2 separate regions of the Homo sapiens genome follow, and region 1 is linked to region 2. Evidence: fine-mapped expression QTL. A gene starts in region 2. The other region holds a variant in brackets. All regions are shown on one strand. Distances are from middle to middle.

What was found. PIP is the estimated chance that this variant, and not a neighbour inherited with it, causes the effect.
Region 1: its variant is the best candidate, but not a certain one, in a credible set for the expression of MPI in whole blood (TOPMed, PIP 0.90).

What each region holds. Positions count from the first base shown.
Region 1 is chr15:74,851,351-74,854,250 of GRCh38, forward strand. It overlaps SCAMP2 (secretory carrier membrane protein 2), which reads right to left. Exons shown (of 9, transcript NM_005697.5): 3 at 2,671-2,769; 4 at 719-836; 5 at 3-131. Among named protein-coding and RNA genes, the nearest start is that of ULK3, 9.6 kb to the left of the region's middle. The variant G/A (reference allele first, on the strand shown) is at 1,141.
Region 2 is chr15:74,888,278-74,891,177 of GRCh38, forward strand. It overlaps MPI (mannose phosphate isomerase), which reads left to right and starts at 1,765. Exons shown (of 8, transcript NM_002435.3): 1 at 1,765-1,812; 2 at 2,250-2,377. The coding sequence starts at 1,797. RefSeq lists enhancers at 1,382-1,431, 1,592-1,891, 1,681-2,214, 2,012-2,091.

The sequences.
Region 1 (2,900 bases), 37 kb before region 2:
ACACATCCACAGATAGTAGAGCATCTTGCATATCCGCTGGTAGTCGGCAGGGATCTCTGTGGAGAAATCCTGATAGAAGCAGGGCTTCACAGGGCACCACGAGGGCAGAGGGGGCCAGTTGTTCTGTCTCACTGGGTAGGGCAAAAAGAGTGACGAGGTAAGGGCCCAGCCTCAGAAGGGGCATCAAGGTGCATGCACGCCAGCATAGTGTATGGGCCAAACCAGGGTTCCCAGAGGGGCTCCAGCAAGCGGGGCTTGGAGTCTGCATGGAGCATGGAGTGGGACAGAACAGGATAATGGAACCCAAAGAGATACCAACAAGCTCACATGGAGATAAAAGACCCCAAATGCACTGGGAAATACAGACAGCTAAATGGCCTAAGTGATTATTTTTATTAACAAGCAGCCCATAAGTGTGAGAACTCAGTTCATCATCATTAGCAAGGAATTGTGGGACCAAAGCCCCTATGCTATCAAAGAATCAAGGAATTTGAGAGCTAGGAAGGAGTGCAGAAGTAATCTACAGCCATTACAACTACACTGCAGGTCTCCTGACTTGCAACTTACTGCTCTTCCCAGGACCAGCATCCTGTGATGAGAAGAGCCCCACAAAACTCTAAGGCAGCTCAGGGTGAATGCTGGGAGGCCCTCCGCACAGGTTTCAGGACACTCTTCTATGCCAGGCAGGGCAGCCCCAGGCCCCAGCAGCCTCCCTTACCATGCAAGTTGGCTACAGTGTTCTGCAGCTCCCGCTCCTTGCGTTCCAGCTCGGCAGCTTTCCTGTCCAGTTCTTCCTGCTGCCGGAGCAGGCCTGCCTGGGCTGCAGACACCACGGCCTGGAGAGAACAGGGGAGGTACAGGGACAGCCAGACACAACAAACAGAAACAGTGTCAGCCTGGGTAGGCAGGCAGAGAGGCCTTGCCCCAGGCAGGGACAGCCATCAAGGAGTCCCAGAAGCAGTCCCCGCCCCACAGAGTGTCTTAGGTACCAGAGACCACCTTAGAGAGGCCAACCTGTCTTCCACTGCCCCCACACCTTCCTGACCCCTTGGCCATGACTAAGCTGTCCTCTCCCCTCATCCCTAAGCTTGAGTTGGGAAAACTACCCCCATTGGCTTCTCCACCTCTTCCCCATACTGG[G/A]TCAAGGCAGCGCTCAGTGATTGTGACCTTTGGGAAAAAGACCTCACAAGAAACTAAACTATAATAAGAAACCCACAGACCCAAGCCTCATTTGAAGAGCCTGGTGGATGTGTGAGAAGGAAAACAGTGCAAGCCTGCTAACAGTGAGTGGAAAGGGGAGACACGTGAAGGCAGATGGCGTGTGCCTGAGCCTCAGGATCTGTACAAGCACCCTGCCCCATGGCCTGCCCCCAGGAGCTGCCTCCTGAGGTCCCCCTAAACTGCAATTGGCTACACCCCAGGACAGCCCCTTAGGTGTGGCCCTGCCCTGCCTGGCTTTAGTGGCATGCAGAGTCCACACTTATCTCCTCTCCAGGCGGGGTAGAGCCTCTGAGTAACAGTAAGGGACTGACTGTATGTGAGGCTGAACAGACCTGGCCCCGGGGCCCTGCACCTGCTGGCAGCTGCTGCCATTTGGGCCAGGTTCCTCCTGAAGGATGAGACTACAGTCCTTTTTAGGGAGAGATCTCAAACTGGTCATTTCACAGGATGACAAACCAGGCACATGTGTACACACACACATGTATACACACACCAACCTCTCCAAAAGCTCTTCAAAGACCTAAGGCTGACGTGGAGAGCCAAGTTTCAGGCACTGGGGGCGGAAGCAGGAGCAGAACTGACCCCGCTGTGCCACGCTGGGGGTCTTGACCTCCTCCAAGTCTGTGACGCCAGCTGAGAAGGACCCAGCTCCCTACAGCCCACCACCCAGCTGCACAGAAAGGCAACTCCGCATGTAAGGCCTGCCTCACCTCCACAGGGCTCTGGGGCCTGGGAGGGGTGTGGGGCAGGCTCCGGGTGCCCTGCCCTTCCTCCTGCTCATCTACATTAGGCCTACCTTCGGAAGCTTTCGCATGTAGCTGTCTCTGAGAATACTTTCTCCTCCTAGGAGCATCTGCCTCTCTGAGAGCTCGCTCACTGCCAGGAATTGGGCAGGCGGGAACTTGCTGGCCTGTCTAAGCAGGAGCTGCAACACACAACTCCACCATGGGTCACGCTCATAGGGGCAGCGAGGGGTGCAGCGGGAGGGCAGTGAGGCGGCGCAGTGGAGCACCAGGCACAAAGCAGGCAAGATTCACAGTATTTGGTGAAGGGACAAAGGAAGACAGGAAGGAAGGTGAGAATTAATGAAGTTAAAAAAAAGAGAGAGATTCTGGGCCCCAAGGAAGAGAGAACAAGCCAAAGGCCCGAGGAGGACCTGGAGGGGTACAACAGGGACAAATGCCCTCTCTGGAGGCACCGAGGAGCCCGGCCTGGTGAGTAGAGCTTATTTCTCAGTGGTGGTGGTGGGTGGGATGGAGGGAGTAAGGATATTAATTGGCAGAGCAGCCCCTCTACTTGTAGGTGACCAGCTCCGAACAAATTAGCAAGAGGGCCCTTAGGGGGCCAAGGCTGAAAGCTCTCTGCTTGCCCCCAGCCTCAGGGCTCAGCTACTGGTCTGGATGATTCCCTCACTGGAGAGAAAAGGCCAGAGTTCTTTGTCAGCACTACCTGGGGGGTCGGCTGGGTTGGTTCCACTGATGGCTGGAGAACCGCTGGCTGTGAGGACCCAGGGAGTTGGGTGACAGGAACTGTTGTCGCTGCATTTGTCTACATGGAACAAATCAAAAGACAGAATTGAGTGGGACTCCATTAGCTGGTGACGAGGGGGCAAACCCACAGCAGGATGAGTGATGTGCCCCTGCCTGTGAGGGGACTCCCTCGGGGCCTGCACTGGGCCT
Region 2 (2,900 bases):
CCATTGTCATCATGGCCCGTTCTCAATGAGCTGTTGGGTACACCTCCCAGACGGGGTGGTGGCCGGGCAGAGGGGCTCCTCACTTCCCAGTAGGGGCGGCCGGGCAGAGGCGCCCCTCACCTCCCGGACGGGGTGGCTGGCCGGGCGGGGGGCTGACCCCCCTACCTCCCTCCCGGACGGGGCAGCTGGCTGGGCAGAGGGGCTCCTCACTTCCCAGTAGGGGCGGCCGGGCAGAGGCGCCCCTCACCTCCCGGACGGGGCGGCTGGCCGGGCTGGGGGCTGACCCCCCCACCTCCCTCCCGGACGGGGCGGCTGGCCAGGCGGGGGGCTGTCATGAGTCTTGTATTATCCATTTTATTATTCCTTAGTGCATGGTAAAGCTTCCTTTAAAATGCAAGCTGATTTATTTGAGCCAGAGGACCCCAGGGGAGGTGAGATAGATACCCACACCTGGGCAGAGGATTACAGGGAAAACGGCACCCGCTCTTTCCCCTGGGCACATATGGTAGAGGCTGTGGGAATGAGGGTATTGCAGGGGTGATGAGGGTAGAGTCAGGACTGTAACTCCTCATTCCAGGTTCCCCGGAGCTTTGACTGTTGTGCTCCTAGCCTCAAGCAATCCTTCTGCCTCTGCCTCCTAAGGTGCTAGGATTACAGGCCTGAGCCACTGACTGTCCTCCTCCTAGGAGGCTGTTGACTGAGAAGGTCTGGATGTCAAAGCCTTTCACCACAGGATATAGCCAAGATTACTGCAGAGCCAAGGCCCAAGGCCATCCTTCCCTATGCACAGCTCTTCGTAATTCCCCTGACTTCTGTGTGTGCAACTTGTAAGCAGCTCAGCCTGGAGTAGAAGTTGGGGTTCTGACTTTCTACAGCACCTGGGACGGGAAGGATCAGAGGAGCACAGGGAGCTGACTGCCTTATAGGTGTCTCACGTCATCCCATCTGACCCTCCAACAAGCATGTCAGGCTGGCATTATTCACCCCATTCTACAAAGCTCAGAGCAGTGAAGGGCCTTGCATGTGACATTTACCATCATCATCACTAGTATGTCCCTACTCACATCACAGCAATTCTTTGCTCAAATCTGTAATTGCTGAGACTCGAAGTAAAACCCAAAGTCTTCACAATAGCAATAGCCTGCAAAGCTCTGCCCCCCTCCTCTCTTCTCTGACCTCCTCACTGCCCCTGTCTTACTCACTCTGCTCCAGCCACAGTGGCCTCCTTGCTAGCAGTTCCCTCCCCAACACGCCCGGCACAGTCCCACATTCCCGCCTTGCTCTGGCTTCCGCTGTGGCTGTTTCCTCCCCGCAGAACACTCCTGCCTTCCTCACCGCCAAGTCTGGACTCAAACCTCACCTCCTCAAGAGGCTTGCCCAGACAGCCTTTTATATTCTGCAAACTGCCTCCCACTGCCACCTGCCCCCTTACTTTTTGTGGCCTTGACCTTTCAACATACTACATGATTTGCTTACAATACTTGTCTGTCTTGCCTTCACCAGAATGTAAGCGCTCTACAAAGGCAGAGGGAAGGCTATCTTGCTCTCTGATGTATCCTCCAGCCCTTAGAACAGTCCGTGGTACTTAGCAGGTTTTCAGTACATCTGTGCCCGGCGATGGAAAGAATGAATGAATAGTGAGACCGAAGATCGCGGCCGTAAGCCTCTGGGCACGGGTGCCCCGGGGCCTGGCGGAACGCTCAGGGAACTACATTTCCCGTGAAGCTCTGGGCGCAGAGGGCCGCGGGGGCTGCCGGGAAAGGCATACGTGCTTAATCCTGGTGCAGGGGGCGAGCATGGCCGCTCCGCGAGGTGAGCCATTGGCTGGGGTGTCGGCGAGTGTGTTCGTGGAGCGCGTCCTGGGGACGACTCCCGGCATTATCGGCCAGGTTGAGTCCGCTCCTGGCATTCCGCGGAAAGATGGGTGGGTGCCGGGCAGAGGTGTGGCCACCTGCGATGGGGATTGACCTCCGAGGGGAGGGGGCCCTTCTAGACGTCGTGCCGTGGGATAGGTACCTTCTGCTCCCTCCCCGCCACCCTGCCTCAGATCAGCACAAGGTCCTTACTGCTGCCCATCTGACAGTTGGGAACATCGAGGCCTGCAGCGGAGGGGGGTCTCATCCAACAGCCTACAAAACCCTTATTTGACTCTGTCCCCAGTGAGCACCCCCAGCTCTTGCCTGGTTTCCCGGGACACTAGGGTGGGGCCTGAGGAGTGGAGTGGCAGCTGACCCTGTCTGTGCCCCTAGTATTCCCACTTTCCTGTGCGGTGCAGCAGTATGCCTGGGGGAAGATGGGTTCCAACAGCGAAGTGGCGCGGCTGTTGGCCAGCAGTGATCCACTGGCCCAGATCGCAGAGGACAAGCCTTATGCAGAGGTGAGCCCCGGGCTGTATTTCAGCCCACTTTACCCGCAGGTCAGGAGAAAGGGCCTGAGGCAAGTCATAAGAATCAGCTGGGAAGGGTGAGGCAGCAAGGAGGGAGGAGACCCACTTGGCTCTTCAGGCTAATGGACTAGATAGTGTTATCAAAAAGAAGAGAGGTTTTGTCATAATAGGCTGGGATTTCCAGCACTCTCCTTCCCCCAACCACTCTTAGCACTTAGTGAATTTTAATTCAGCCCTCTTTGACAATTAAGTTTTTTTACTTTGACTATTTTTTTGCATTTTTATTAACCTAAAATATTTCTCCTGCCTATTTAGTGGAGAAAAAGCCAAAGCATAGGAAGGCTTTCGCCTCTGCTTCTGAAACTGGAAGATGTATGTTAACCCCTGAAAGAATCATTTAAGAGTCATAGTTTTTCTGCTACCTTGACAGTGCAGATGTCATTCTCCTCTTTGGACAGACAAAGAAGATACATCTAAAGAAGGGAAATAACTAGTCCAAGTCTTCATAGATGGC